Linked DNA regions of Homo sapiens. The protein of the gene in region 6 purifies or fractionates together with the protein of the main gene of each other region. This does not show direct contact. Each region holds a gene or a part of one and is shown on either strand. Other genes may lie near its edges. The genes, in order: BDH2, UTP11, XRCC4, DHRS11, PRRC2B and CYREN.

Region 1 (3,500 bases), on a different chromosome or scaffold from region 6:
CCTTAACCACAGATCTTTTGCTCTCGATGTGAGCCAGTGGTAAAATTAAATTAAAATGTGGGGTATTTTTGCCCTCCCTTTTATTCTTTCTAATGGACATGGAAATGAACATCAAACTGGGAGAAAGAACCATTTAACATTTAATTAATTTAAAATAGTGTATTGAGCACCGGTATGTGCTCTGGCCATAAAAGAATTCACAGTCCAAAACTAGGAGCAAGGCAGCAAACATCATCTTCTCCAGTGTGATGATATATAACAGAGGTTTGTACAAAGCGCTGTCAAAATACAGGGAAATAACTGCCTGTGAGTTTGTGGAATGCTTCACAAAGACAGTTGATCTGAGCCATCAGCAAGAAGTCAAGTTGAAGGACAAGGACAGCAGTACAAAATGTGGATTATGTCACAATCTGGCATAGTTGGATCTGTGAGTTTAAAATGAAATAGTTACTGCTGAGATACCATTTCTTCTCTTTGCAAGGATACACATATTCAACATACACAAGAGAGGAATGTAAAGAAGTGCCTAGGCCTCCTGTTTTATTGTTTTGTTTTGTTATTAATCTTCATTTTCTTTTGGAATCTGCCTAAGAGTTATGGCAACTGATGATGAGAAACTAAGACTACCAATGTTAAGTAAGTTCAGCATTTCAATTAAGTCTCAATTAAGTTGTGCCTATACTGATATTATTTCCCTAGATCCAGAAACTGACTCTATTGAAGGAAAAAAATCTGATATCAATCTTTTTAAAAGGGGAGGAATGTGGGAGAAAGCATGAAAATGGCTACTGGGAAAACTTATTTGTGTTACCTTTCTGAAGGAAAATACATTTTTTATTCCTTCAATTGTTGAACCTTTCCTCCACCCTCAGGAGTTGTGAACAGATGTGTGTACAGCACAACCAAGGCAGCCGTGATTGGCCTCACAAAATCTGTGGCTGCAGATTTCATCCAGCAGGGCATCAGGTGCAACTGTGTGTGCCCAGGTGAGTAAGGCACACCTGTTTTGTAAGCAAAGTTTTACTGAAACACTTCCACACCCAATTTGCTTATGTTATTGCCTATGGCTGTTTTCATGCTACAAAGGCAGAGTTTAGTATAATAGTTGCAACAGATAAAATGACTCTCAAAGCCATAAATATTTTTTGTCTGCCTCTTTACCAAGAAAGGTGTGCCGATCCCTCATACAAAGCAAAGAAGAAAAGCAGAACTTTCCTTTTCTTAATAACTATAGGGGTGTGTCTCATTTTCACAATAACCGTAGATGTGTTTATTAAATTGATATGTACTTTTACCTGGTTCTACCAATCTAAAAGGAACTTAAGGTATCTAATAAGGATTATAATATTCTTTAAAAAGAAATGATTGCATATCCAGGATCAAGGTTTCCCTTGGTAGTGCACAATTGATAATGGGGGGTGGTGTGTGAAAGGGAAACATTTCAATATGACCTGGGGACCTTTCAAACCTGAAGGGCATGCCAGAATTTAGGGAAGGAGTTCATGGAGAGAATTGTGTGGTTTAGAAAGACCCACAAGAGATTCTGATTGAATCTTCAGTTGAAACCCACTGACTTAAAGAGGGGAAACTAAACATCCCCCAAGCTACAGAATTTCAGCGATTGAGATGTTCTGTTTTATTTTTCTTGGAACAGAAATGTAAACGTAGGTAACGCTAAGAAAAAGAAGAATGCATGAGAGGTCATTTCATTGGGTTTTAATGTACATCCTGGCGATACTTGAGTCTAGCTATTCTTGGTGCCATTTACCCAGTGGAATAAGTGGTAAAATGATTTGGAAAATGTGGTTGTTTCAGCGACTGGACTTATCAGGAGATTGGAAAATATGTTATCAAACTCTTTGGAACAAGGAACTAGCTGTGACTCAGTGAACCAATCACAGAAGAAAACTTGAGGAGGACTGAGTATGTCTGAGATGCTGCTGATGGTTGTATAGTCACAAATCTCCAGCCAGACTTGTGTAGACCCTGGCATAGTATGTCTGTGCCATGGACACAGCTGAACCCAGTGACATTGGAATACTCTAAAGGCATGGGCTTGCTCTACAGTTCTTATTTAATAGCCATTAGTACCAGTCATATGTAAGATATGATGTTCATTTACCTCAGAGGGAGAAAGCTATTAAAGCTGTAAGATTCTGAAGGAGTGTTAGTGAAAGCTTGAGGTGCACACTGTTGGTAAAACTGTGGACTTTAAGGAGGCTATTGAGGAAAGTGAGGAAAATATTATTGAAAATTAGAAAAAAGAGTGTCTTTGTCATACAGTTTCAGAAAGTACATCAACACTGTTGCCTGTAGTGTGAAGGTAGAAGATGTTCCTAATGAACTGGGTGATCTAATTAAGGTGATTTCTACCCAGAGTCTTGAAAGTGCTGGCTGCTTATAGTAAAATGTGACAAGAGACAGATAACCAACCTAAAGAGGGGGTTCCAAAATGGAGTCAGGCTTTCTGATTTTGAAGATTTCCAGCTTCATCAGAAAAAAATAGCAAATGATGCTAAAATTAAGAAATGTTTTCTGAATAAAGATCAAATCTATGGCACTCTCAGGAACATGATCTAAGGGTGAAGTATGACTGTAAAACCATTTGTTACAACCTCAGAAAGATCACATTATTTGCCAGAGTACTCTTTAGTCTGAAAAAGGGCCCTCTAAAGAGAATGAACAGTTTATGTCCGTTAACAAAAAAGTCTGGGTAACGTGCTCTAGGAGACCATAAACTAAGTGGAATTTTAAAATGTTAGCGTTGTTCTTATTTTTCTTTTTTAAAGTAAAATAACTTTAAATTAGATTAAATTATATTTTTGATTAAAAACTTGAAACTGTGGTTAAAAGTAGGCATTTGAAACAATGAAAATAGGCAAGGTGATAAGAAAAATTTAGCGCCACCTGAATTACCAAGGACTATGGTAGCCATGGGATTGTCCCCAAAGATGCCACAGTGAACTTGACAGCAAAGAATGGTTTTGAGATCATTGAGGCAAACTGGCTCCTTAAGCTGGCAAAGTGCTTGTACGATTTTATCTACATCTCAGGGTTATTGTGAGGATTAGCTGAGATCATATGCATAAATGTATTTAAAATCCATAAAGCATCATATAAATGCAATGTGACTAAAATATATGTCCTTGAGAATGCTGGGTGATTCATCCAGAGTCCCTACATAGTGTCACGAAGAATCATAGTCTGTGTTTTTAAAATCATAGAAATGTTATTGAAGAAATTATAAGCCTATTAAATAAGAGGCCTCAGGCAGGCAGCTGTAAAGTTGTCATTTTAAGTCAAGGAGAAGAATCTCACTGATTGTCATATGGAAAGGAAGTTTAGTTATCGATTTCTTTTTCAGTGAAAGTGAGTAACCAAGCTGAATATCCCCCTTTGATTTAGGAACAGTTGATACGCCATCTCTACAAGAAAGAATACAAGCCAGAGGAAATCCTGAAGAGGTACATCTAGCATTTAAAATGTATTTAAACCTTTTG
Region 2 (3,500 bases), on a different chromosome or scaffold from region 6:
AGTACCACAAGTATAATAATAATAGTAAACTCATGCTGGAAAGCTGCTATGTGTCAAGCCATGTGCAGGCATTACCATTAATAGAAGCTCCTTGAATCCTCAGTATAACCCGGAGAAGCAGGTACTATTTTCATGTTACAGTCAGGAAATAGCAGCTCAGAGAAGTTAAGTGACATGCCCAAGGTCACAGATTGTTCAGAGGTAAAGCTTGGATTTGAACCCACATCTCCAGACTCTAAATTTAGCTCCCTTACCACAGTTGCCTCCCTGTTACTATGTTTTCCCTTTGTAGTATTTTATAAACCCTTGGATTAAGTTGGTAGTAATTTTAGTACAACTGGCAACTGCTTGCTTAGTGCCGAGTCATTGTTGCCTCTCTCTGTCCTTAATAGGCCAAGAAACCTACTACAGCAGTGCTTGTGACCTGTCTGGTGCTGGCAGGGTCCCTCTCATCCTTGGGCAGAGCCCAGTTGTGGGGAGGGGAGGGAACAGGGTCATGGGTTAGCTCCAAGGACTGGATTTACTGAGCACTCCAGAGACTCCTGTGCCTGTTAGATGTCGTGTTGATTTGGATATGTGTTTGCGGAGGAAACTAAGCACTGTTGTTCTTTCTTTTGTCTTCTAGCCTGGCTTTCGAAAACATCTGGGCCTGCTGGAGAAAAAGAAAGATTACAAACTTCGTGCAGAGTGAGTTCAGTCTTTCTGGTAGAGGCGCTGCCAAGAAAGCTTACAACCTCCTTGCACTGCAGCTGAATTGCCTGAGTGTCCAACAGGGGATAATTTCCTGCCATTGATAAAATGGCCAAAGCTCTGGCAGCCTGTCAGATAATTTTTTCTGTGATCCTAAATTTCTCTCTTTGTTTAGGCAGATCATTATTTATTTAACTGTAGTTGCATTGTGAATTATTTGTATTATGTTGTTCCAGATCATTTTCTCATAGTGGCTTTGATTTGGCTCTGCCTTGGTGTTTGAGCCCAAAGTTGAATCTTTTTCTCTTTGTTTTCTTGAAGTGCAGGATATAATCTGAAATTCCATTTGTTGAGTCTCTTACATCACCATGTGTGTGATGTGGAATGAAGAGATGTGAAAGATGGATTCATGAGACCAAGCGTGGGTGATAATGAACTCTGAAAACATTTTATAAAACAATTATCCCCATTCTTGTTCTCTGTTAGCACTTTGTTTGCAAAATACTTCTTAATTATTTGTTAGCGATACATGTCAGCTGAGGTCCTTTTTATGCCCCTGGTCTAGATGGTGGTGATGGATTAAATGGGTTTCTGTAGGTCCCAGAGATTTTAAGGCTAATGATAATTAAGTATTGTTATTGGGCCAGGCAGTGTTCTAGGATATTTACCGTTTTTACACTGATTTGTCCCTCCCAACAACCTTCTGGGATGGGTTACTATTACCGTATTCATTTTACAAATGAAATTGGGATTCAGGATGGTTAAATAACTTATCCAAGGTTACTTAGCCAGAAGTTGTCAAGTCCAGATTTGAACCCATGCTGTCTGGCTCCAGAGTCCATGATTCTAGTCATTGCGCTATACTGTACTGTGTAGTTTCTGAATTACATATGGTCATTTGGTGCCCAAGCTTGCACCATATCCTAAGGAGTTTTAATTTGTACTTTGTTTGGTGTCTCCCTGTAATGATATAAATGGCACTGAAACATATATAGGCTGGGGACAGTTAATTTCAGGTTCCACTGGAATAGGAACTGTTGATTAGACTGTGGACCCTGCGAAGACATGAGCTCAGCTCAGTGACAGTGGAGTGTCCAGATCCAGTCAGTGCTTTTGGCTTTTTTGAGTTTCACTCTGTGTGACCTTTTAGATGCTTGTAAAGTTTGCTTATTGTGGGTTTTTGGTTTTTTAAAATTATCTATTTTTTTTTTTTTGCTATGAACCTCATTTAACCTGTCTTTTAGTGACTACCGTAAAAAACAAGAATACCTCAAAGCTCTTCGGAAGAAGGCTCTTGAAAAAAATCCAGATGAATTCTACTACAAAATGACTCGGGTTAAACTCCAGGTGGGTGCCCAATGGCTTGGTTGGTGTTTTGAGCTCCACACATTGGAAAATAAGGACAGGGAGGAGATGGAGAGGAAGAATCGTTGGCCTTAATTTAACCCTTCTCTGGTTACTCCAGGTGCTCTTGGTCAGTGTCCAAGGCAAACCCTCCACTTCCAGAGGAGCGTGCATTTTTACCTTTGAATCTGGGTTGTCTTATACCTGGAGCTGTTCTAGGACAGATGACTGGAGGTGCTACATTGAACGTACGCCTCAGGGGCCTGTGTCTAGGATTGCTGTTAGCATACAGCATTTGGTTGTCTTTTTGTTTTTTTTTTTGAGATGGACTCACTCTCTGTTGCCCAGGCTGGAGTGCAGTGGTGCGACCTCGGCTCCCTGCAACCTCTGCCTCCCGGGTTCAAGTGATTCTCGTGCCTCAGCCTCTCGAGTAGCTGAACTACAGGCACACACTACTGTGCCCGGCTAAGTTTTTGTATTTTTAGTAGAGACGGGGTTTCACCATGTTGGTCAGGCTGGTCTTGAACTCCTGACCTCAAGTGATCTGCCCATCTCGGTCTCCCAAAGTGCTGGGATTACAGGTGTGAGTGACCGCACTTGGCCTATGGTTGTCTTTGTTCTAGCCGTGCACTGTGCCAACAACTTATTAATGATTTTAATCTAATAGGGAATATATCTTTTAAATTTGGATTTTAGGATGGAGTACATATTATTAAGGAGACTAAGGAAGAAGTAACCCCAGAACAACTAAAGCTGATGAGAACTCAGGACGTCAAATATATAGAAATGAAGAGGGTTGCAGAAGCTAAGGTAATTCACTCTTTGTTCTGATTGGTTTTATTGGTTAAGAAGGGAAACTTAAATTCATCAATCTCAAGTTATTCATTAATTTCTTCTGGCATTTACAATCTCACTTGATTGTAATAATGATTTAGAAGTATAGTTAGCATGGTAGAGTGGAAAGAGTTCAGGTTTGGGAATGAGACAGACCTAGGGTTTGAGTTCTGGCACTGCCATAAATTACTAGCCCCATGACAATGGGCAAATTCAACTCCCTGAGGCTCTTCCCTCATTTCTGTCTCAGGCGACTGTTGCAGGGATTAAGTGCGTCTTGGGAAGTGCCTAGCCCAATACCTGATATTTGTTGGGATCCTTTCCTTTAAAAGAATAAAGCAAGTTCTTTGCTGGCTGGCAATAATGATGTGAAATGGTTTAAACTTTTGCAGTTTTTTTTTTTTTTTGGTACCCTAGAAGAATCTAATATAAAGTGAGACCATATTCTGTGTTCTAGAAAATCGAAAGACTAAAATCAGAGCTCCATCTGCTGGATTTCCAGGGGAAGCAACAGAACAAGCATGTGTTCTTTTTTGACACCAAAAAGGAAGGTATGAAATGTTTGAAGGTTTCTGGGACAGTCTACCATGCCAGTCTGTGTCATTTGGTGTTAGAAACCGACAGTGCCTTAA
Region 3 (3,500 bases), on a different chromosome or scaffold from region 6:
TTTAAGATAAAAAGACACACTTGAAAACATTAGGTAAAGTAAATGTTTAACTTAAAGCTTTCTGAGAGCAGGAGTAACACTTATATTTGTTCTATTTTCCTAACACAGTGAGCTGTTCATAGTGTATAATCAACAAGTACAGTATTGATTAAATAAACAAAACTGTATGTTGAAGTATAAGATACAGATATTAGGTACTGTAAATGACCAGAGGAAATAAAAATTACAAATATGAAATGAAATAGGAACATGGAAAAAAAGTAAGTCCTTGTGGAAGGTTTAGAATTTAAACAGAGCTGTAACTAATGGCTATAATTTCATTAAGAACACCCAAGTTTCTAATTATTTGTTTCTCTCACTTTCCATTAAAACTTTAGATACAGGTTCTCTGAGTTGTTTACTTCAAATTATACCTCTAAGCGTGATTTCTTGGAGAAGGCATGTTCATGAAAAAAATATGATAAATATGCTAAGATATATGTATAAGGATACTAATTGTCTAGTTTATAAGGGCATTTAAAAATTGAACCAACCCAAACCTCTATCAGTGAACTAATAGTACATCAAAATTAAAATCAATGATGAATGTAGATCTAAATTTTTCAACATGAAAATACATCTCTAATATATTATAGAGTAAAAATATCAAGCTGCAAAACTATAAATGTGTAGAATGATCACATTTTTGTAAAAAAAAGGCTGTGAATGTACAAGTAATGCAAAATAGGATAGTAGACATTTGTATTCGTCTTTTTTCACACTGCTATAAAGACATGTCTGAGACTGGGTAATTTATAAAGAAAAGAGGTTTAATTGGCTCACAGTTCTGTAGGGTGTGCAGGCTTATGCTGCTGGGGAGGCCTCAGGAAACTTACAATCATGGTGGAAGGCAAAAGGGAAGCAGACACATCTTCACATGACTGGCAGGAGAGAGAGAGCAAAAGGGGAAGTGCTACACACTTTTAAACAATGAGATCTCATGAGAACTCACACACTATCGTGAGAACAGCAAGGGGGATGTCTGCCCCCATGATCCAGTCACTTCCCACCAGGCCACTCCTCCAACATTGGGGATTACACTTCAACATGAGATTTGGGTGCAGACACAAAGCCAAACCATATCATGCCATCCCTGGCCCCTCCCACATCCCCTTCTCACATTTCAAAACATGATCATGCATTGCCAAGAGTCCCCCAAAATCTTAACTCATTCCAGTGTTAACTCAAAAGTTCAAGTCCAAGGTCTCATGTGAGACAAGGCAAGTCTCTTCGACCTACGAGCCTATAAAATCAAAACCAAGCTAGTTTCTTCCAAGATACAATGGGATTACAAGCATTGGGTAAGTTCTCCTATTCTAAGTGAGAGAAATTGGCTAAAACAAAGGGGCTACAGGCCCCATGCAAGTCCGAAAACCAGCATGGCAGTCATTAAATCTAAAAGCTCCCAGATAATCTCCTTTGACTCCATGTCTCACATCCAGGGCACAGTGATGCAAGGGGTAGACTCCTAAGTCCTTGGGAAACTCTGCCCCTGTGGCTCTCCAGGGTACAGCCCCCATGGCTGCTTTCATAGGCTGGTATTGAGTGCCTGCAGCTTTTCCAGATGCATGGCGCAAGCTGATGATGGATCTGCCATTCTGTGGTCTGGAGGATGGTGGCTGTCTTCTCACAGTTCCATTAGGCAGTGTCCCTTTGAGGGCTCCAACCACACATTTTCTTTCTATCCACACTGCCCTAGTAGAGGTTCTCCAAGAGGACTCTACCCCTGCAGCAGACTTCTGCCTGGACATCCATGCATTTCCATACATCCACTGAAACCTAGGTGGAGGTTCTCAAGCCTCAGCTCTTGCACTCTGCACATCTGCAGGCTTAACACCACATGGAAGACACCAAGGCTTGAGGCTTGCACCCTCTGAAGCAATGGCCCAAGCTGCATGTTGGCCCCTTTTAGCCACAGCTGGAGCGGGAGCAGCCACAATGCAGGGTGCCATGTCCCAAGACTGCACAGTGTAGCAGGGCCCTTGGGCTGGCCCACAAAACCATTCTGCCCTCCTAGGCCTCCTGGCCTGTGATGGGAGGGGCTGCCATGAAGATCTCTGAAATGCCTTGGAGGCACTGTCTTGATTATTAACATTTGGCTCCTGTTTACTTGCGCAAATTTCTGCAGCCTTGAATTCCTCCCCAGAAAATGGGTTTTTCTTTTCTACCATATGGCTAGGCTGCAAAATTTTCAAACTTTAATATTCTGCTTTCCTTTTAAATATAAGTTCCAATTTCAGGTCATTTCTTTGTTCATACAGATGAGAGTAGGCTTTTAGAAGCAGCAGGCCACACCTTGAATGCTTTGCTGCTTAGAAATTTCTTCCACCAGAAAAGCATAGCAAGAGTGACCTCTACTCCAGTTCCCAATAACTTCCTTATCTCCATCTGAGACCACCTCAGCCTGGACTTTATTGTCCATATCACCATCAGCATTTTGGTCACAACAATTTAACAAGTCTCTAGGAAGTTCCAAACTTTCCCTCATCTTCCTATCTTCTTCCAACCCCTCCAAACTGTTCCAACCTCTACTTATTACCCAGTTCCAAAGTTGCTTCTATATTTTCAGATACCTTTATAGCAATGCCCCACTTCTCTGGTTACACACATACTATCACAAGAATAGCAAGGGAGAAGTCCACCCCCGTGATCCAATCACCTCCCAACAGGCCCCTCCTCCAACATTGAGGATTACAGTTCAAAAAGAGATTCAGGTGGGGACACAAAGCCAAACCATATCAACATTTTTGTGTTCTTTTTTATGCTTTTCAGAATTTACAAAAAGTCTAACAATAAACATTTACTACCTGTAAAAATAATAAAACTTTTTTAAGAGTTGTGGAGAGAGTTCTAAATTTACTCTATTGACTTGCCATAGATATAAAAGCTCAATGATCTCCATTCGGGACAACTTTTACTGAGTACCTGTTATGACTAGGCACTATGAACAGGGGTCAAAATCTATTTCTTAAGCCCCTCATGACATCAGAAGGAAATGTAAATTATAAGTGGAGCACCAGGAATCTATTTATCCTTCAGTCTGGTCACTTCAGAGTGGTCCTTTGGTCATATGCTGATTTTTTTAAAACAAAATTGATAGATCTCTGTGTTCTGGTTCACAGTATCTAAACAATGGACACAATTACAGAGATCTTTCCATGTCTGACTTTTTAAATATGATTTCAGCTTTTATTTTAGATACAGGGGGTACATGTGCGGGTTTGTTACAGGGGTGTATTGCATGATACTGAGGTTTAGGATAGGGATCTCATCACCCAAGTATTGAGCATAGTACCCAATAGGTAGTTTTTCAACCCATGACCCCTCCTTCCCTTCCCCATGTAGTAATCCCCAGTGTCTATTGTTTCCATCTTTATGTCCATGTATACCCAATGTTTAGCTCTCACTTATAAGTGAGAACACAGGTATTTGGTGTTCTGTTCCTGCATTAATTTGCTCTG
Region 4 (3,213 bases), on a different chromosome or scaffold from region 6:
TATGAGTGTGACGGGGGTCGGGGTCTGAGGCTGGCTAGGGAGCCGTGGGAGTGAGCTGCTCACCCCAGTCAGACCCCTGTTGGGTTTCATAGGAGCTGGCTGCTGAATGTAAGAGTGCAGGCTACCCCGGGACTTTGATCCCCTACAGATGTGACCTATCAAATGAAGAGGACATCCTCTCCATGTTCTCAGCTATCCGTTCTCAGCACAGCGGTGTAGACATCTGCATCAACAATGCTGGCTTGGCCCGGCCTGACACCCTGCTCTCAGGCAGCACCAGTGGTTGGAAGGACATGTTCAATGTAAGAGCTCCAAGCCTCCATCTTCCAGGTGGAGGGTGGGGAGGAGAGAGGGGAGCCAGGGGTTTGTGAACCAGAGTGCTGCTGGGGACGGGACATCTAGGAAGAGGGAGCTTCGGGTTCCCACCTGGGGCATCTTGACTCTCTCTTGGCTTCTTGCCCTACCAGAGGGATAGAGAGTGGATGAATGGCCATATCAGCTCTTCTCTTCTTTGAGCCCCTGGAGGTAGTTCTTTTTTTTTTTTTTTTTTTTTTTTTTTGAGATAGAGTCTTGCTTTGTCACCCAGGCTGGAGTGCAGTGGCATGATCTCTGCTCACTGCAACTTCCGCTTCCCAGGTTCAAACGATTCTCCTGCTTGAGCCTCCTGAGTAGCTGGAATTACAGGCACCCATCATCAATGCCCATCTAATTTTTTTGTATTTTTAGTAGAGACAGGGTTTCACCTTGTTGGCCAGGCTGGTCTCAAACTCCTGATCTCAGGTGATCTGCCCATGTTGGCCTCCCAACGTGCTGGGATTACAGGCATGAGCCACCACGCCCGACCTGAAGGTAGTTCTTAAAGTCTAGAGTGATTTCCTTGTGTTAGAAGAAAGATTGTTAGGGGAGAGAACTGCTGCCTGTTGAATGTTTCCCACTTGTCAGTCCTGTGCCTGGGTGCTTGGGAACGTGATGTTATGGGAAGAAAAGGAAGAGAGAGACAAGTGATGATATTCTTACCTAGCCTCACTAGTAACTATGTGACTTTAGGCAGGTTGGTTACCTTCCTTGAGCTTCAGTCTTGTCACAATTAATTGGGATGAACACACCTCTATCATCAATATCTGGGGTCACAGCTCCAATGTCCCCTGGGGCCAGGTAGGTACATAAAGGAGTGAGGGAGGTTAGGAGGGGTCTGTGGTGTGTGAGGAAGCACACAGCCACTGCTCAAATCCTGCATAGTTGCTCTATGGTGGTGTGGGCCCAGTGTGGCCTGATTTGATGAAATTTTTTTTTTTTTTGAGGCGAAGTCTTGCTCTGTAGTTACCAGGCTGGAGTGCAGTGGCGTGATCTTGGCTCACTGCAACCTCCGCCTTCTGGGTTCAAGCTATTCTCCTGCCTCAGCCTCCTGAGTAGCTGGGACTACAGGCGGGCACCACCATGCCCAGCTAATTTTTTTTGTATTTAGTAGAGATGGGGTTTCATCATGTTGGCCAGGATGGTCTGTATCGCCTAACCTCGTGATCCGCCTGCCTTGGTCTCCCAGAGTGCTGGGATTACAGGTGTGAGCCACCACGCCCAGCTGATCTTATGATTTCTTTGAGAGAAGTGGGGAGTCTGATTTTATGTGACACCCCCCCACTCCCATTCACTAAAATGACAGCTCCATGAGGGCAAGTATTTTATCTGTTTTATTCTCTGGTATGGCTTGATCCCATAAGCACTGAAAAGATAGTTATTGAATAAATGAAACTTTCCAGTACATGTTGGAAGGGTTTTTAAAATGTTTTGAAACTGTGCACAGGCCAAACCCAACTTTCAGGACATGGGTTTTCAACTTCTGGATGGTATGATGGGGTGATAGTAGGGTATAAAAGTATCCTGAGAAGTTGAAAGCAGTGTGTGAATGGGGTGTTCTTTTCTCCCCACAATCCTTTCCCATCTGCTGACAGTAGACTTAGCACCTCACAGATGCTTGGGCCTGGAAATGAAGCCATGAAAATGAAGCCCTCAGCCTTCTTGGAGATCAGAGCCATGGTCCTCACCCACAGCACATGGGTCTCTAAACCTGGACCTCAACTCGCCCATCTGTAAAATGAGGGACTTACATTAAATTCCTACAGCTCCTTTCAGCTTGAACATTATCTGAGTCTATTAGGATCATCCTATGAGGCATCTTCTCTTTCCCTGCCCCTGATACCCTAGACCTGGGAGATTTACTCACCTGGTCCCAGGGGATCTATTTCTCCCACTCTACCTGCCAGGGGCTGAGTTCTCTGCCTCACAAGCCCACATTGCCAAGAAGATGAGAAACACGGCTGGAAACCTCCCTGTCCTGGCACCCATCTCTTCCTACTGCCATGAACACCAAGACAGGTTCACACCAAAGGTGTTCTGTTCCTCATGGCAGGCTCTGCCACCTGATTAAGAGAAACATCTAATCTCCTGCTGGTTCCCTCTCTTCTTAAGAGGAGAGGCCTGAGGACCTGCTGAAAGCTTTATCTCTGCTTGTCCTCCGGGTGAGGCTAATGAGTGGGGCCAACGGGTGGGGCAGTGTAGGCGCTTTACAGCAGACACGCCTTCAGACCTCTGTTCCCTGAAGGGTGGGGATGTGGGGGTCACCTCTGCCAGAGGGAGTAGGAGTGGCAAGTTACCTGACCCTCTAGAGTCTCCGTGCCTAGTCTTGTAGATGGAACCCACGTTAAAGGAAGGCATAGAAAGGAGGGTCAGGCCTTCTCTTCTCCACTCATCTCAAGGGAGGGGATGGGGAAGGAGCAGAGAGTAGCTGAGGAAGGTAGGGAGAGGCTAGGCTGTGTGCCGGAGGAGAGAGATTTGTAAGCCATTTTGGTAAGGATTTTGAGCAGTTTAGGAGGGAGCAGGGCCAGAGACTGTCACAGAGAAGAGAAGAGTAGGGTATTTGGGGGAAGAAATGGAAATGATTCCCTATGGAATTAGAGGGTCTGTGCTACTGTTCATAGAGGAGATGGCCAAGACAGAGTCTCCTGGGTCAGGAGTGGGTTTGAAGGGTTTCCATTCTTGTTTGCAGGAACTTGGGGGGTCAGCCAGGTGAGGAGCTACCTCTGTTATCAACTGGGGGTTGCGGCTTTAGGGAGAGGGGCATCTCGTGTAGAAGACAAGATGCTCTGTGCCTGTGGCTGGTCTCCGGGGGGACCTGGACACTGTTTTGGAATGCCACACTGCCCCCTTCCCCCCTAG
Region 5 (3,500 bases), on a different chromosome or scaffold from region 6:
GGTCAGGAGATCGAGACCATCCTGGCTAACATGGTGAAACCCCGTCGCTCCTAAAAATACAACAACAACAAAAAATTAGCCGGGCGTGGTGGCGGGCACCTATAGTCCCAGCTATTCGGGAGGCTGAGGCAGGAGAATGGCGTGAACCCGGGAGGCAGAGCTTGGCAGTGAGTGGAGATCGCGCCACTGCACTCCAGCCTGGGCGACAGAGCAAGACTCCGTCTCCAAAAAAAAAAAAAAAAAAAAAGAAAGATATATTTTTTAATGTAAAAAAAGAGAAGCTACCAACTTTTAGAAATAGTATAAGTGAAAAGAAGCATGAGCATAGCGGAAATAACGACAGAGAATCCAGATTGGCAGGAGTGAGGGCTCTGCCCTGCTCACTCTCTCCTGTAATCCATGAGATGTTGAGAAACACGTTGGGTGAGGATGTGGAAAGTTGGGTAAGGCTGTCAGACCAGCTCTTCCACGTCAGAGCCGTTCACTGGGTGTCACGGGTAGGGGGCTGGGGTGGCGGGTGCAGGGGAGGCAGGGGAGTTGGATTTCTGCAAGCTGTGCCTGTGCTTGTTCTTTAAGAGCTCATAAACTCTCTAGACGGGTTGCTCTTTGATGCCCTGACTCTGTCTTCCTCCCCTGGCAGCTCTCCCTGTGCAGGCCCCAGCCAACGACTCCTGGAGGAAAGCTGTCACTGCCTTCAGCAGCACCGAGACTGGCTCTGCGGAGGTGAGTGTGGCCGCTGCCCACATGCTGCCCCTGGGATGAGTGTGTGAGTGTGTGCTCACCATCCACACGGCCAGCTTGCTGTGGCCCACCCAAGCCCCTGCCACAGCAGCTGAGCTTGGAATTAGGTTGTTTCCATGGGGCCAAGCTCATCAGTGGTTTTCCATCTTGATTTCTGGCCTGTGCATGGGGCGTGCATGAGCAGGAGAAAGAGAAAAGGGGTAACAAGGGAGGACCCAACGCTGGGTGGGAAGAGGGATTCAGGGCCTCCTCTGAACTGGTGTCAGCAGCCACGTAGTCTGGTTTGGGTCACAAGTGAGATGGGTTTGGCAGCCTCGGTCTGGGGCCCATAGAAGATCCTGTGGTCACGAGCTCTATCGGGGTTGGTGTGTTTGGCCACACGTAAGTTGTCAGGCATCCTCAGCAGGGCAGGATCAAGATCAGGACCAGACTTGGCAAGGGACAGGCAGCTGGGGTAGAAAAGTCTCTGTGCCACATGCAGTTTTACTCTCTGGATAATCGAGTTGGGAGTTTGAGGCTATAACCCATTTTGTGCTCTGCACAGCAGGGTTTTAAGAGCAGCCAGGGAGATAGTGGCGTTGACTTGAGTGCCGAGTCTCGGGAGTCGTCTGCGACCTCCTCGCAGCGCAGCTCCCCATATGGGACTCTGAAGCCAGAGGAGATGAGCGGGCCCGGCCTGGCGGAACCCAAGGCCGACAGCCACAAGGAGCAGGCTCCAAAGCCATCTGAGCAGAAGGTAACCTGGACGTTCCAGTCACAGTGGCCAGGGCCTGGGTGGAAGGGGCCATCGTCTCATCATCTTCCTCAATTCCTGGGACAGTAGAAGCTAGAGAGTGTGGTCATTCCAGTCTGTGTGTCTCCACCTCTCTGCTTTTTTATCAAGGATTCAGAACAAGGCTCTGGACAGAGCAAGGAGCACAGACCAGGACCCATCGGCAACGAGCGTTCTCTGAAAAACAGAAAGGGCTCGGAGGGGGCCGAGCGGCTGCAAGGGGCTGTCGTCCCGCCTGTTAACGGGGTGGAGATTCACGTGGACTCCGTGCTGCCTGTGCCACCCATTGAATTTGGAGTCAGTCCAAAAGTGAGGCTTTGATTTGTTTTCTTGCTTGCTTTTTTTACTTTTTATTTTGGTACTTGGAGAGGCTGGGGGCTCAGATGGGATTGTCTCCTAGAAGGAATAGAAGGATGGGAGCCAAGCAGTCTTCCAGCGGCTAGAGTGTTGGTGTGGAGTCCTGCACATGGCCAGTGCTCTGTTGAGTTGCTTTAAAGATTGCTTCACTGACACCAGACAGGCCAGTGATCTTCCCTGTTTCTGTCAGGCCACCCAAGGGACAGGGAGAAAGAAGTGAGGCTGGCGTCCTGTCTCCTGTGCCGTGGGGAAAATCTGGCCATCTCGCTCATATGTGGCTCCAGTGAATGCTGCTCAGTGGAGTTTTTGAGTCGGGGAAACTGCATCACGTTAATGTATGCCTCTGGGGAATGTAGGGCCAGGAGGATCTCAGTGGGCTGTGTGGCCTTTTTTATTTTTTCAGGACTCCGATTTCAGCTTGCCACCTGGTTCTGCCTCTGGTCCTACTGGGAGTCCAGTTGTTAAACTTCAGGATGCCTTGGCCAGTAATGTAAGTCCACACTTCCACTTTTGGCTCCACTCACTGCTTGGGGCTGGCAGGCCCTGGGTGAAGGAGACAGCACATGTATTTCAGGCTGACCTGGGCTGGCACGTGACTCAGTTGCTAGCAGCTCCATGTCCTTAAAAGGTGCTTAAATGTTCCTGCCCAGGTTTTGTGACCTTCCAGTGGGGATCATACAGTTCCTAAGGGCTGGTTTATTTGGCTCTCTTTGGTTCCATTGTCTCCTCTGTGCCAGGTGCGAGCCCAGACTCAGGCTGCCTTTTCTGTGGCCAGGGGTAAGGGGCACAGATTGAGTAGGAGAGCCCTCCTCAGGAGGCCCCATCTCACCATCCAAGGGTCCCTGCCGCCTGCAATCTAACTGTTGTGATCCAGAAGACCTGCTGGCGCTCTACCATGGGCTCAGGAGCTGGCAGTTGCATCTGTTGTGGCCACTCGGGGCTGCAGCTGAGGCTGTCGCAGTGACATCTGGTTCACTGCTCTGTCCTCACCACCTGCAGGGGTGGGTGCTAGTGCATATGCTGAATGAACGAGTATCATTTGGGCAGCGTTTCCCAGAGGATTCCAAGGAATGTGAGTGCTGTACAATATTCATAGGTGTTGAATGAAAACAATGTTTTGGAAGTGCTGGGCTCTACGAGGTTCTTTACTCGAGAGTCTGCGGTCTCTGTCACATGCAGATGGACACCGGGGATCTGCAGGAAGCGGGGGCACTGTTGCATTTCCAGCCTCTGTTACCAGAGCCCTCTTTTTCAGTTTGCTGAGGGGCACAGCCTTCCCTGTCTGGCCCAGGGCATCTCCAGGCCAGGTGGCAGGTGCCTTCTGAACCAGATGTTTGTGTGCGGGCTGCCAGTCCATATTTATACTGCCGGGACATGGCTCTCCCTGTCTGGAGGGCACTATGGAGTGTGGATATGGGGGTGGCTCTCTGCAGACTTGTGTGGAGGAAACTGATGGAGGCAGCCATCTCCAGGAGATCAGTCATGGTCCTGGCTGCCATCAGTTTCATCTGGGTGGTCTTGGGTACATGTGGCCAATACTGAAGATGCATTTGGACAATTCATAGACACGGAGCTGTAGGTGCTTTTGGGAAAAGCCATGGATGGGTTTGGGCAAGTCATAGATACATTT
Region 6 (4,300 bases):
ACTAGTCTTACCAAGTCAAGCCAAGTCAAAACCAGAACAAAAGTGCCAATACAGGCACACCGTGGGTGATCAGGCCACGCTTCCACTCACGTGGAGTGGGGCAAGTTCCAAAGACTAGTCTTACCAAGTCAAGCCAAGTCAAAACCAGAACAAAGATGTCAATACAGGCACACCGTGGGTGATCAGGCCATGCTTCCACTCACATGGAGTGGGGCAAGTTCCAAAAACTAGTCTTGACAAGCTTCAGATGTCTGGACTTCAAGTGCCAGTTCCTTCCCGGTGTTCAGCCAGTGTTAATCCTTCTCGGGAGCCTGCTATGCGCTGCTCTGGCAAGGCATTCCACCGGGGCCATTTCCTACCCGGGAGCGCTCTTTGGATTGCGTCAGTCAGGCTGGCCGGAGTCCTCTGCAGGGACGCTCCACAGGGCTTGTCAGTCACCTCGCTTCCTGGTCAGGGAACCAAGGACTGTAGCAGGACAAGCCACAGACAAAACCTCTCAGACACGGAGCTGTAGAAGAAAGGGCTTTATTCAGCTGGGAGCATTGGCAAGCTACTGCCTTAAAATCCGAGCTCCCCGAGTGCACAATTTCTGTCGCTTTTAAGAGCTCACAACACTAAAATTTCACATGAAAGGGTCGTGATTGATTTGAGCAAGCAAGGGGTACGTGACAGGGGCTGCATGCACCGATGGTCAGGGAGAAACAGAACAGGGCAGGGAGTTTCACAATGTTCTTCTATAGAATGTCTGGAATCTATGAATAACATCGGTTTCTAAGTCATGAGTTGATTTTTAACTACTAGGTTTAGGCCAGGCAGGCCCAGGTCCAGTTTTGGGCCTGGCGCTGGGCTGCCTGTCTTTGATTTCACTTCCTTTTTTTTTTAAAAAAAAAAAAAAAAACAGGTACTGAGTATAAAACAATATGAGAGGGTCTCTCTCTTCCCTCGCTTTAACTTTCGGAGGGCTGAAATTCTTTCTAGCCTTGGTTAATACAGCAATTCATTCCATTCTAGCTATTGTTATTTCTCTTACTATAATTTTACTATTAGTACTTACGCTATTCTATTATTTTCTTAATTTTCCACTTAATTAGGATAACAAACCGAGGCCGGGCTCCCATCCTCCTCAAGCACACGAGGGGGGCCTGGCCCAGCAGGGAGCTTCGCCTGGTTTCTGAGGGAATTCCCGGCGGGCCTTTCCAAAACATGCCCGTTCCCTTCCGCTAACTTCAGGGGCCAAGAATTGAACTTTCACCCTCCTCAAGCCGGTGGCGCTGCCTCGCTGGCGTTCCCAGCGCGCAGCCAACCGGATGCCAGCCGGCGGCATTACCACTGCCAGCATGGGGCGCCCGCGGACCTCCGACTGAGGCAGCTGCCGGGAGCCGGAAGTGTCCCGGGCGCCGGGACTGCGAGGGGGCCGGGAGTTCCCCAAGACCGGAAGTGTCCCGAGGCCGGGAGCCCGCGGGACCCCGGAGCGCGCGGGGCCGGAAGAGGCGGGCGGCCAGTGGAGGTCCGCAGAGTTTGGGCGCCAGGCGAGACGGCAGGGCTTAAAGTTCCGGGTGAGGCGTGGGTCCCACAACCGCTTGGAATTTGCCTCCCGGCTCCGCTCTGGAAGCTAAGAAGGGGCACGAGAGCCGGAGACGGGAACCTGAGAGCAGGGAAGCCAGTAGCCGGCCGGAGGAGCGCGCGGCCGCTCCAGTCGGAAGGAGCCGTTGCAGCCCTGCCCGGCGTGTGGCGGGGTCAGCGAGGCCCCTGCGGTGCTTCGCCCGCGCCTTCCGCTCCGCACTCACCCGCCCTCTGGGCCTCCCACAGGTCGGCGCCGCCAGCGGCGGGTACCGGCCCGCAGAGGGAGGGCGGGCTGTGAACTGGCAGCACATCGCGTTCCCGCGGGGCCCCCATTCTGCCCAGGCAGGGAGCGGCTGGGATGGGACTGAGGTCGGTCCGCGAGCGCGGTGCCCCAGAGACCCGGCTTCTGGAAGTTGCCGCGGCCTGCTCTTGGGGCCCAGAAGTAGGGCGGGGAGGCGCGGGGTCTGGAGTCTGCAGGACCTGGCTGCGAATCCAACCAGCTGATTTCAAACTTTTCTGTGATCTTCTGCAAGTTAACTAAGTCTCAGTTCCTCGTTTGCGAAATGTACTTAATAGGCACCCCAGGGTGAACTAAATTTGTCCGCACAGACTGCAGCATTGCGCTTGGGAGGCGCCTTAGGGGGTAGGAGTCACTAATATCACTGAGTTTTGACAGAAATGAAGGTGCATTGGCAAAGGTGTGCCCCATGGCCGGGCAGGTTAGGAGGAGGGCCTGGTAATATTTTTTCTTAAATTGTAAACAGCCATCTGGATGAGCAATGCATTATCAAATTATGATTCAGAGAGGACTATCGCTGACTACTCTTTTTTTTGGGCAAACCTCCGCTTCAGGAGCTTCTGGCTTGATTCCTAAGTGGAAGGTAGAGACCTAGGCCCTCTGAGTCACAACTCCATCTCTCTGGGTGAGGACTGAGCTCCAGGACTGCTGAGTGGAGGCAGAACAATTGGGATAGGGAAAAGAGAGGCCAAACTAGATCAGAGGCTGGCGTGGGCTTCAGAATCTACAGACTGGCACAGTTAATGCCTCCGGGCCCCTATTGCTGCTTCAAGTTTGACCAATCAGAAGTATCTTTAGCTTAAGGGCGGCGTGTTGGCCAATGAGACTTTATTGTGAAATAAAATGCCCTCAGTTTCATTTAACTGAGCCACCATAGAAGAGTAGAGAAATCGAGTTGGCCAGATGAGGGAGAGGCCATTAAGAGGTATTTTAGGGATTGAATGGGCTGGGCACCCAGAGGACAGTGGCATTTGGGGTGGTAATGAGAAGGAACATTAGGGGCCTCCGCCTCCTTCCGTTCCTCCTGTGCTGAGTCAGTCAGCACAGAGGCTGCAGGAGGTATCTCTGGTTGGCTTTGGCTGCCTGTAGGGGGCACCAGCTTTGGGGAGGTCAGAGGGCTCTCTCCTGAGCTGCTGTCCTGCCCACAATCACACCTGCCTGATGCCTGTGAATGGCCGTCTGAGTCTCTTGGGCCTTGGTCACTTCTGGCCTGCCCTGCACCGACCAGTAACTGTGCCTGATGACTGGAGGTATGGGAATTCACCGGACTTTATTGTTCTTTGTAGGAATCAAAGATCAACTCCCACTGAGGACAAATGGACCTGTAATTCCGGGTGTGACGAGAGAACGAGATTTACCTTCCTGAATTAAAAAACAGGTCATTAAGCTTGGGCCCTGACTCTTCTTTGTGAGAAGGTACAGAGATGGAAACCTTACAATCCGAGACTAAAACGAGGGTCCTTCCCTCATGGCTGACAGCCCAGGTGGCTACAAAGAATGTGGCACCAATGAAGGCCCCCAAGAGGATGAGAATGGCAGCAGTGCCAGTGGCAGCAGCAAGGTGCGACAGCTCTGGTCAGAAGACTCCTGCGAATCTGGCAAGTGGAGCAGGGGCCTCCATGACCTGGGCCAGGTCTTCCAGCCTAGGCAGAACAGCAAGATGGGCGGGTGTTTCAGTCTGATCATCTCTTGAGCTTTTAGAAGGTGGAGGGGCTGTGGGCGGGAGGCAAAGCGGGTTAACCCTCGAGGACAGGCACCCACTTCTGCCTCTGCACTGGTGAGTGCCCTGCCCTCAGCACACACAGAGTGGGTTCTCCATGTCAGCCAGTCTCTGATGCCAGTTGTCCAGAATGCCAGTCTCTTCCTTTACAACAAACATGGTAACATCAGATGGGCAAGATCAGTGGAAGGGTCTGTTCTGAGTGGTGCCTGCCCCTGTGGACAGACCTTTAGGGATGGACAGATGAGCAGCAGCTGCAGGGCCAGCAAGAGCTAAGGAGCTGGGGAGTGAGTTAGTTGAATGACGGTAATTGCCGGGGGGGGGCGGGGGGGGGGTGGTGAGTCTCCAGGCTGCACTGTGAAGTGGGCGGGGCCCCAGCACTCGGTGTTTCCCTCTCTGGCTCCTCCTCCTCTAAGGTTTCCTGACTGACAGCCTTCCCTTGTGACTGCTGCCGTCTTTCCCTAAGTCTGGTCCTGCTTTCAGGTTCCTCTCAGTACAGCCTCAGCCCGAGGTTCCCTTCCTCTTGCATCCATGTGTGTGTTTCAGAGGCGGCCATCCTTCCCTACTTCCAGATCCTTGTAGGGCAGTTGGTGGAGGGTGGGAGGCACCCCGGTGTTGCCTCCATGAAGCCCTGTGCCAGTCACTGGGCTGCAAGGCTGAGGAAATTGTGTCCGTGTCAGAAAGCTCCTCAGCTCAGAGGTGCTGGTACCTCCTGCGTG

What was found.
Region 1: the proteins of CYREN (region 6) and BDH2 purify together in Homo sapiens (affinity purification with mass spectrometry; one large-scale study listed by BioGRID and IntAct). This does not show direct contact.
Region 2: the proteins of CYREN (region 6) and UTP11 purify together in Homo sapiens (affinity purification with mass spectrometry; one large-scale study listed by BioGRID and IntAct). This does not show direct contact.
Region 3: the proteins of CYREN (region 6) and XRCC4 purify together in Homo sapiens (affinity purification with western blotting, with the first as the bait; one study listed by BioGRID). This does not show direct contact.
Region 4: the proteins of CYREN (region 6) and DHRS11 purify together in Homo sapiens (affinity purification with mass spectrometry; one large-scale study listed by BioGRID and IntAct). This does not show direct contact.
Region 5: the proteins of CYREN (region 6) and PRRC2B purify together in Homo sapiens (affinity purification with mass spectrometry; one large-scale study listed by BioGRID and IntAct). This does not show direct contact.

What each region holds. Positions count from the first base shown.
Region 1 is NC_000004.12:103,082,835-103,086,334, reverse strand, and holds part of BDH2 (dehydrogenase/reductase SDR family member 6), read left to right. Parts: exon of another isoform or gene 1-594; coding exon of another isoform or gene 595-636; exon of another isoform or gene 637-872; coding exon 873-986; intron 987-3,405; coding exon 3,406-3,464; intron 3,465-3,500. UniProt on the Homo sapiens protein: NAD(H)-dependent dehydrogenase/reductase with a preference for cyclic substrates. Catalyzes stereoselective conversion of 4-oxo-L-proline to cis-4-hydroxy-L-proline, likely a detoxification mechanism for ketoprolines.
Region 2 is NC_000001.11:38,015,734-38,019,233, forward strand, and holds part of UTP11 (probable U3 small nucleolar RNA-associated protein 11), read left to right. Parts: intron 1-625; coding exon 626-687; intron 688-1,934; coding exon 1,935-2,037; intron 2,038-2,730; coding exon 2,731-2,844; intron 2,845-3,325; coding exon 3,326-3,419; intron 3,420-3,500. UniProt on the Homo sapiens protein: Part of the small subunit (SSU) processome, first precursor of the small eukaryotic ribosomal subunit.
Region 3 is NC_000005.10:83,346,547-83,350,046, forward strand, and holds part of XRCC4 (DNA repair protein XRCC4), read left to right. Parts: intron 1-3,500.
Region 4 is NC_000017.11:36,594,879-36,598,091, forward strand, and holds part of DHRS11 (dehydrogenase/reductase SDR family member 11 precursor), read left to right. Parts: intron 1-92; coding exon 93-302; intron 303-308; exon of another isoform or gene 309-1,155; intron 1,156-1,952; exon of another isoform or gene 1,953-2,136; intron 2,137-3,213. UniProt on the Homo sapiens protein: Catalyzes the conversion of the 17-keto group of estrone, 4- and 5-androstenes and 5-alpha-androstanes into their 17-beta-hydroxyl metabolites and the conversion of the 3-keto group of 3-, 3,17- and 3,20- diketosteroids into their 3-hydroxyl metabolites.
Region 5 is NC_000009.12:131,481,086-131,484,585, forward strand, and holds part of PRRC2B (protein PRRC2B), read left to right. Parts: intron 1-640; coding exon 641-723; intron 724-1,285; coding exon 1,286-1,477; intron 1,478-1,624; coding exon 1,625-1,822; intron 1,823-2,273; coding exon 2,274-2,360; intron 2,361-3,500.
Region 6 is NC_000007.14:135,167,908-135,172,207, reverse strand, and holds the start of CYREN (cell cycle regulator of non-homologous end joining), read left to right. Parts: upstream 1-1,500; 5' UTR 1,501-1,556; exon of another isoform or gene 1,557-1,932; intron 1,933-2,733; exon of another isoform or gene 2,734-2,786; intron 2,787-3,147; 5' UTR 3,148-3,285; coding exon 3,286-3,422; coding exon of another isoform or gene 3,423-3,459; intron 3,460-4,300. UniProt on the Homo sapiens protein: Cell-cycle-specific regulator of classical non-homologous end joining (NHEJ) of DNA double-strand break (DSB) repair, which can act both as an activator or inhibitor of NHEJ, depending on the cell cycle phase.